Linked DNA regions of Homo sapiens: region 1 is linked to region 2. Evidence: fine-mapped expression QTL. Tissue or cell type: whole blood. Region 2 holds a variant in brackets; the other region holds the start of a gene. All regions are shown on one strand. Distances are from middle to middle.

Evidence for each region. PIP is the estimated chance that this variant, and not a neighbour inherited with it, causes the effect.
Region 1: YBX1 starts here. The variant in region 2 is fine-mapped to the expression of YBX1 in whole blood (INTERVAL, PIP above 0.99).

Annotation. Positions count from the first base shown.
Region 1 is chr1:42,680,051-42,684,910 of GRCh38, reverse strand. YBX1 (Y-box binding protein 1) reads right to left here and starts at 2,493. Exons shown (of 8, transcript NM_004559.5): 1 at 2,180-2,493; 2 at 1,445-1,508. The coding sequence starts at 2,345. It also overlaps a transcript of PPIH not described here. RefSeq lists silencers at 1,588-1,737, 1,848-1,957, 2,148-2,347 and an enhancer at 2,788-2,837.
Region 2 is chr1:42,529,683-42,534,542 of GRCh38, reverse strand. All of the region lies in intron 6 of CCDC30 (coiled-coil domain containing 30), which reads right to left. Among named protein-coding and RNA genes, the nearest start is that of CCDC30, 69 kb to the right of the region's middle. The variant A/C (reference allele first, on the strand shown) is at 2,333.

The DNA of each region.
Region 1 (4,860 bases), 150 kb before region 2:
AAGGTAAGCACACTTAAATTTGAAAACCACTGGTTTAAGGGTTAGACTAGTAACGATAATCAGAGTAAGACAGAAATACAAACTAAAACACTAGAAAGTTCAGAGAGATCAGTTAAAAAGCTATCAGTATGCCAATTATATATAAGCATTCCCTTCCTTCTTGCTAGTAAGCCATTATCAAAAAATTAATGAAAAACGTAGTTTCGGCCAGCCAGGAAAGCAAACAGTATATAACAAGATGGAAAATCCTAAGATTTTGGAAGAAACAAAATATTTTCCCACAATTGCAAAAGTAGAGAATAGATCACCAAATGCTTATCTCTTACTCTGAGTGTTTCCACAATACTCTATGATTGATTAATGAACAGTTTTTCATCAGGCAATGATTCTGTCCTTAAGCTTGATTTTGCCCATTTGTTGTCCATTCCACATTGTTCTTTTAATCATCTGCTTAGGTCTTCTACAGTAAGCAAGCAAGACAATGCTGAGATGGCACTAAGTACCATACCTGTGAGGCCAAGATTGCTACTGGCATACCCAGTGCTCTGCACCCATGTAACTAGCACTACTAGCCTTGGCAGCCATCTTGAAAATGATGCCCGGCTTACAAGGGAGCCCATGGAATACAGTGCGTCTACTGCACGTTACCACCACCACTCCTACAAACAACCCGAAGGGTAAGTCCTAAAGACGTGTCTGCAGCTTTGCCTTCAAACAGGAAGAAAAATGTCAAGTTACCAGTGACTATGGCCACTCTAATAAGCTACAGCCAGGGATCTAACAGAAATCGACTTAACCAGTTATGATTCTAGGACAAGGAAGAATGAAAAATAAGAACGGAAGAAGGAAAAAAAACCACTTTCTTGTAAATATATTATTTACTGGATGAGCAAATAAAAACAGTTCTCTCTGGTCAAAGCTGTGCTAAGACAAAATTTATCTCAGGTATTAAAATGAAACGTGAAACAAAGGCAATACAACCTCTCGGTAAAGATGACAAAACCTCATATAGTCAAATCCTCTTACCCTAAAACGTTAACAATGTATAAATATCCGATGTCAGTGGATCACATTCTCAAATACCGAGTTCAATAAAGTAGAAAAAGATGACAAGGATAAAAATGTACTGGACCGTAGTTTCCCGTTTACCCTGTTAAGGAATGGCTCATTCACTCCGCTTGCCTTTTGAATTGCTTTGTACTGTGACGAAGCCTTTTAAGTTAGCTTCAAATTAATATTTAGCTGCAAAACAAAGGCATTCTCTAGATCCACTAATCCCTAATCAAGGAAAACAACAACAACAAAAAATCATACTAATACACCAGAGGTAGTAAACGCCTTTCAGAACAGAGCTGTGGATTGGGGCTTCCCAAGCCCCGAGAAGCCGACAGAGCAGGAAGCAAGCAAGAAGGTGGGATGGAGGCTTCAGAGCCCGGCAGCTCACCTGTTGATGAAACCATATCCGTTCCTTACATTGAACCATTTTACTGTTCCCAAAACCTTCGTTGCTGGAAAAGAAAACAAAGCAAAACAAGCCACGATTACCAGCTATCCTTTTCCAAATCCGCCCGGCTTGGGCATCCGGTCCCTCGCACGCCGGCCGCCGCGGCCACCTGACAGCCCTTTCTCTCCACCGCCCGGGTGCGGGGCCACGCAGTCGCCGCCGCCGCCGCACACGTGGGTGAGTCTGAAGCGCGGGGCGCTCCAGGGCAGGCCCGGGGCGCGGGCCCCAGGATGGGTGTGTGCGCAGGCCGCGGACGGAGAGCACGTGAGGGAAGGGGAAGCCGCTCCGGCCTGCGTAGGCGGTGCGCCGCGCCCTCCGAGCACACGCGGAAGGGAGCTGGGTGGGGGTGACGCGAACAACGGCGTGCGGGCCCGAGCGCACGAGGCCGGTCGGCGGGGAGGGGACCCCGTCGCACACGCGGTCGGCGGCGCGCGGCCGCAGGGGGAGGGGCGCGCGGCCGCGCGGGGTCCACAGGGGGCGCGGGAGGCAGTGCGCGCGCGCCTGCCGGGCGGGTCCCCGCGAGAGGGAGTGAGGGGGGGACGGGGGGGATGGGCGGCCGCGCGCCGCGGAGTCGGTGCCCACCGGCCGCGCGCCCGCCGGCTCGCCCAGCTCCGGCTAACGGTTCCGCTGCTGGGCTGCCCGAGGGCCCCACCCCCGTCCCTGTCCGGTCCTCACCGATGACCTTCTTGTCCCCGCCGGCAGGCGCCGCCGATGTGAGGCCGCCCGGGCCACCGCTCCCTGCGCCGCTGCCCGTAGTGCCGGGCTTGGTGTCGGCGGCGCTGAGGGCGGGGGCGGCGGGGGGGGCGGCGGGCGGCTGCTGGGTCTCGGCCTCGCTGCTCATGGTTGCGGTGATGGTGACTGGGGCCGGCTGCGGCAGCTGCGGCTCCTCCCGGGGTGTGATGGTAACTAGGCCGGCGGCGGCGGTGGGGCTGCTCAGGGCTCTCTGGGGTCCGCTCTCCGCTCCCGCTACCGATCGAACTAGCGAGAATGGCGGGACAGGCGGGATAAGCCCTACGAGCGACCCGCCCTAGGCGTTGTTCACTGGCCAGTGGTACTGTCAATCTGCCCACCTGACCCCAATCCCTAGCTTCTATTGGCTAATATTTTATCAGTCCTCCATTCTCATTGGACCTTTGGCGGCTAATTCAGTCGACCTACAACCGTTCCTGCCTCCGCCGGCCGCCATAGAGACCGGAACTAGAATTAGAGTAGTCGGCCACGAAAACCATAGAGTACCCGAGAGGACGGGCAGAAGGAACGTGACTTCCACGAGGCAGCCGCCGGGCTGGCGGGCCCCACGTTCAGGGTTGTGTCTCGGCTGAAAAAAAGGCACGCCCGAACGCTGGGCAGGGATTACCCGGCCGGACCCGGGATTGGAAGGGGGCTCGAAGACGCCTTAGCCCCCCGTGAAGAAAAGGCTTCCCTCCCTCCCAGCTCCAAATACGGTCCCTGTGATCTGAGAACATTACGGCGGGCATAGAGTCGTCTTTTCTTTAATGGCCGTGTAGTCGCGGCACAGCCGAGGGTTTCTGGAATTGCCTTAAACGTATGCGTTTGAAGAGCGTACCCTTTTGTCGGAGCAGTCACCTTGGAGGGACCACGCAGGCTATGGCAGCCCGGGTTCAGCATGTTTAGGGCGAGGGTGTGCTCCATGGGGACCTGCCTTCTGATCCGTTTTACCAGGCATATATTTAAAAAAATGTGTCTTCCTTTCCAAGTATTCACATCTTTTTCTACTGACCACAAATCAGATTTAATTCAACTCACATTTATTGAACAAGCTAGCCTGTTTTGTTTTTTCACTTTATTCCTGCAACAGCCACGTGATAGAGGGATTACTATCCACGTTTCACAAACGATAAAATTGAGGCTGCCACCTGATGTTACTGAAGTCCTCCACCCACCTTCTTTCGTTCTTTTTTAAGCGTCTACTATCGGCTGGGGATGGAATAGTTCGCGAGTCAGTTTCTGCCTTCTGATGGAGGCAGAAATTTAAACAGCCAACACGGTAAATACTCCAGAGCTGCAAAACCACGAAGTATTTTGGGAGTGGAAGCAGGGAGAAGGTGGAGGGCTGACTTTCCGCGCACAGGGTACAGGCGAGAAGAGGTGAGATCTCGGGAAATGCAGTCAAGTAGTTCAGTAAGACTCGAATGTGACATTGGGTTGCAGAGGTGGGCAGTCACTTAGGTATATTTAATTGGAAATATATCCTGAGGGGAAGAGTGAGAAGAGCAATTTTAGAGTCATAAGTAGGGAGGGGCATCTTTTTAAAAATGGCTGCGGAGTGGAGAATGGGTTGCAGAGGGGCAAGGAATGGAAGTAGAGAAAGCAGTTAGGAGGCTAATGCAGTATTCCTTACCCCTACCAATGCCGTCTAGGCCTGTGAGTTCCACCTCCTAAAGGCGTTCTTGAGTCAGTCCTAAACCCTCTAAATGTCAATTCAGAGTCTTTTCATTCCTACTGTCACTACTGTAGGCCATCATCACCAATTGCTTAGAGCAAGGGGTAGGAACCTTTTTCTGTGAGAGCCAAATAGTTAATAATATAAGCTTGGCCGACCATATGGTTCTGACTTACTACTCAGGTTTGGAGCTTGAAAACAGCCTTAATTTTTACATGACACGAATCTTTACATATTTTCAACTATTTAAACATTTTAAAAACCATTTGTATTCTTAGCTCATGAGCCACAGAAAAACGGAGTGTAGTCGGCTGACCCCTAGCATAGAGCAGTGCTGTTGGCTACTAACCACACCTCTCTACCTCTTTCTTACTCTAATATTACCCACCACAACAGCCAGAAAGTTCTTTTGAGAACATCTATCTGATCATGACACTGTCTTACTTAAAATCTTCCAGTGACTACTATTACCCTTAGGGTAGTCCAGATTCCATAATGTGGTTTACTGGACTCTATGACTTCTAAGAGAAGTCTTAGAGTCTTCTCTTGTATTCCCTGTCCAACCTTCCAGGTGCTTGTAACTACTGGCTGCAGGATACTGCAGGAGCAGAGGTAGCAAACAGCTGAATTCTATGAAAATAGAAATTGGTTAAAAGTGTTGCTTCAGTGTATCAGATGACAAGGGAGATGGTGAAATATTACAAGGGCCCTACAGAATAGACACTTGCAACTCTCCAGCCAAGTAAACATGCTTCAGAGGACATCGTAGAGAAAGGACTGTCATCTAGTGGAGTCCTTTAGCCACTGTTACGTTTGGAGTATTACATAAAATTCTACATACAACACTCTTCCTTTCCTCCTTCCTCTTTGCCTGCTTAATTCTTCATCCTCTAGGTCTTGGCTCAGATGCTACTAGGTTAAGAATCCCTCCCATCTTAACACACTGTATTGC
Region 2 (4,860 bases):
AGAAAAATGGATACTAAAATCCTAGTGTAACTTTTATAATTCCTCCTGTCCAGTGGTATGGACAAAAGATGTAGTCAAGAATCATGTCAGCTTAGCAGCACTGCACAAGGAAATGGAGAAGAATAAATGTTTTTTTCCCAGAGTACCTTCTCCCATCAGCCACCATCTGCACTGGTGAATATTTTTTCAGATTCACACATGACATGCTGATGCATTCAACACTCAAGGCAAGAATTCCTTTAGCCCCACCCTTATGGCACCTGAGATGCTTCAGTACAAAGTAGAAGAAACATCTCAACTCTTAAATATGAACCCCCCCCCTCATTTTCTTTGTCTTTTCCTAGAGTAAGAATGTCATGTATTTCAATGCTATAATTTTTAAAAGATAGCTTTCCCAAAGAATATATATTTAAAATTTACCATAATACGTGGCACATTGAATATAGTTATGCCTTTAGGCAATTTATATACTTAATGAGCCCAGTAACCAAAGTTTAAAGCAGAAAAACACAAGAAAGGGGCAATAAATAATGTGAGAGATGAGCAATAGGATACAGAGATCTCTGAGTAGCTTGAGGGAGCCTACCTCACCTGCCAGCCAGCAGTAAGCAAAGAGGACTAATGACTTAGCATGGGTAGCCACCAACGACTCTGGAGATGGTGTAACAGCTCAGAATTTTCCACTTTCAATGTTCTACTCTCTGAAAGGTGGGGATCACCTAATGCTCTGAACTAAACTGTGCCTCCCTGCATAGTATGACAAGTTTTATTGTCGTCCCACTGTGTGCTTGCGTTGTGCTGCGCCCTCTCACAGGCACAGTCAAATGAAAAGATGAATGCAGGCACTGTAGAAAATAAAATACTGCCTGGTCATCACCTGTAGGTGGAAGCGGTTTATGTGCTCAGTGCTGGGTATGCTGTAGCCCTCATGAGTTATAATAAGTCCCCTATATAAATCTCCTCTGTAAGTTGCCCCAAGAGTTGTTATGGTGTAGAAAATGAGCCCTGGGGCCAGATAAACCTGGATCAGCTCCTGGCTGCAACTATTACTTTGGTCAAGTTCCCTTAAGTTCTCACAAATATGTAATGGGAATACTCCTGCTTACTCTGGGGAGGGCTGTGTAAAATATGACAAGGTTTCTCTTCAACCAACCTAATTAATCCTTTATTCTTTAATTCTCAATACCCCTCCACCTCTCTTTCTTCTTCTTTCTTTCTGCTTTTACTACATGCCCAGGCATGCCACAACACCAGTGACGTTATCAACACCAGCTCACATTCCTTTCCTTATTTTTTAAAAAACTGACTCTCTAACTTGCCACAGACAACCCCTTCCCTCTCTCTCCTCTCTCCCTTACGTGCCCACCTTATCTAAAAAAAAGTTTAAATGTTTATCCAATCAAGTCTAGTTTAAATTATACAGTCCAACCCCACCCAGTGGGGAAAGGGCACAGGGACAAGATTTACGTCAAAACTAAAAGCTTTTGGCCGGGCAAGGTGGCTCACGCCTGTAATCCCAGCACTTTGGGAGGCCGAGGCGGGTGGATCACGAGGTCAGGAGATCGATACCACAGTGAAACGCCGTCTCTACTAAAAATACAAAAACAAAATTAGCCGGGCGCGGTGGCGGGCGCCTGTAGTCCCAGCTACTTGGGAGGCTGAGGCAGGAGAATGGCGTGAACCCGGGAGGCGGAGCTTGCAATAAGCCAGACGGTGCCACTACACTCCAGCCTGGGCGACAGAGGGAGACTCCGTCTCAAAAAATAAATAAATAAATAAATAAAAACTTTCACCCTCCTTTATTGTATACGCTCTCATAACGACCAGCCATATGGGCGGCACCCCCCTGCACAAAAGTAAATTTGCTTTGCTGAAAAATCCTTTATCTAAGTGCTCATTTTCCTTACAACTCCAAGGTCTATTTCTAACGCTGTTATTGGGATTAAATGAGATTATGTTTGTTAGACACCTAGAACAGATCATGACACATGATAGATGCTCAATATATTGTGGCTATTATTTTCCTACCAGATACCTAGCATTTCTTCTATTTTAAGCATGTTCTCTGAGAACACGTGTAATAACAGCACTAAGATGGTCTATTTAGTGATAAGTCTGTCTCCATAGAGAAATGGGTAAGGAACACAGTTACATCTTGAGAAGAGTGCTTGATATAAGGGAATGATTTCCTAAATTATTTTTCCTTTTTAAGTCACAGGACTCCCATCTCCCCTTTATTTTCATAATAATTCTTATGGAAAAGCCCTTTACAGAGTTCCCAGAAGTGGAGATTTCTCTGACTGATGTGGAGGTAGAAGACCCACAGCTTTCT[A/C]TTTATGAAACATCAAAGATCCCTGGAACACAGTTTGGAAACTACGATGGCAAAAACATTAAGTCTTTTTTTGTTTGTTTTTTAAGAGACAGGGTCTCACCATGTTGCCCAGGTTGATCTTAAACTCCTAGGCTCAAGCAATCCTCCCACTTTGGCCTCCCGAAGTGCTAGGATTATAGGTATGAGCCACTGCACCCGGCCAAAACATAGGTCTTGTAGTTAGGTTGAGATTTGAAATCTTGACTTTCACATTTTACAAATCTGTGATCTTGGTTTTCTCATGTGTAAATCAGGGTGAACAATACCTACCCTCTCTGAATTTCTGTTAAAATAAGTTATGTCAAACCCCCAGGAGAGTCATTACAACACTGAAGAGACTCATATATTAGTTTCTATCTGTATTTGACAGGGTTCTTTGGAGAAACAGAACCAACAGAAGATTTTATATATATATAGTATGATCTCACTATCATTCAGGCTGAAGTGCAGTTGTATGATCACAGCTCACTGCAACCTCTGTCTCTCGGCACAAGCAATCCTCCCACCTCAGCCTCCTGAGTAGTTGGAACTACAGGCATGCGCCGCCACGCCTAGCTAATTTTTGTATTTTTTTGTGGAGGTGGGGTTTTGCCATGTTGCCCAGGCTGGTCTCAAACTCCTGGACTCAAGTGATCTACCTGCCTTGGCCTTCCAAAATGCTAGGATTACAGGTGTGAGTCATTGTGCCCAGCCCAAAAATAATGTTTAATCAGGTATCTGGGCATCCCAAACCTCAGTCAAGTTGACATATGAAGTTAACCAGTACACCATCTATGCTAGTTCATTCTTGCATTTATAATAGTATAAAAAACTACCTGAGACTGGGTAATTTATAAAGAAAAGAGGTCTAATTGACTCACAGTTCCTCAGGCTCTACAGGAAGCATGGCTGGGGAGGCCTCAGGAAGCTTACAATCATGGCAAAAAAGGGAAGAGGAAGGAGGCACGTGTTACATGGCCAGAGCAGGAGGAAGAGAGAGAGGGTGAGGTGCTACACACTTTTAAACAACCAGATCTCGTGAGAACTCACTCACTCACTATTACTAAAACAGCAAGGAGGAAGGTGTGCCCCCATGATCCAATCACCTCCCACCAGGCCACTCCTCCAACATTGGGGTTTTTATTTAATATTACAATTCAACATGAAATTTGGGTGGGAACACAAATCCAAACAATACCACCATCTTTTTACTTCCTTTTTGTAAGAAACAGAAAATAAAGTACAGCAGTCCCCCTAATCTTTGGAAGATATGTTCCAAAACCTCCAGTGGACACCTGAAACTCCCAATGGTACCAAACCCTCTATACAGTCCTCCCTTGATATCTGAGGGAGATTGGTTCCAAGATCACTGAAGATACCAAAATCCATGGATGCTCAAGTCCCTCATATAAGATGGTATAGTATTTTACATATAACCTATACACATCCTCTCATATATTTTAAATCATCTCTAGATTACTTACAATGCCTAATATAATGTAAAAGCTATGTAAATTGTTGTTACACTATTTTTAAAATGTTAAATTGAGAGATGAGTCTCATTATATTTCCCAGGCTAGTCTCAAACTCCTGGGCTCAAGCAATCCTCCTACCTCAGCCTCCCAAAGTGCTGGGAGTGAGCTACCATGGCCAGCCTGTTCTATACTTTAAATTTTATATTATTTTATTGTTGTATTGTTATTTTTTATTTTAATATTTTCAACTCATGATTGGTTGAATTGGGAGATGTGGAACCTACAGATATGAAGAGCCAACTGTACTGTTTTTTCCATGTATACATAACTAAGATAAAGTTTTATTTGTAAATTAGGCATAGTAAGAGATTAGCAACAATAATAATAAAAATATACTGTAATAAAAGTTATGTGAATGTGGTCTCTCTCTAAATATCTTATTGTACTGTACTTATCCTTCTTGAGATGATGTGAGATGGCACAATGCCTAAATAATGAGGTGAAGGTGAATGACTTAGGCATTATGACATGGCATTAGACTACTACTGACCTTCTGATGATACTTGAAAAGTAGAGTCATCTGCTTTGAGTGATCTTGGATCACTGAGCCATGATGATGTCCATGGTTGCATGTCAGGAGCAGGCTGACTAATGCCCATGACTAATGGGTATACAGTGTGTATGTTGTAGGTGCACTGGTCGAAGGGATGATTCCCATCCCAGCAGGACAGTGTAAGATTTCATCATGGTACTCAGAATGGTTCACAACTTAAAACTTATGAGTTGCTTATTTATGGAATTTTGCATTTAATATTTTCAGTCTGCAGTTGACTGCAGGTAGCTGAAACTGTGGAAAGCGAAACTGAAAATAAGAGGGAACTACTGTAGTCAGCGATAAGGAAGGAATGACTGAAGGAAACAACCCATGCCAGGAATAGCATATTACTAGGTCAAGGTCTGGAAACAAGTTAATGGGAATGGGCTGTTACTCCTTACCTGCTGACTACAGCACTCAGTTCACTTAATTCCTATGCT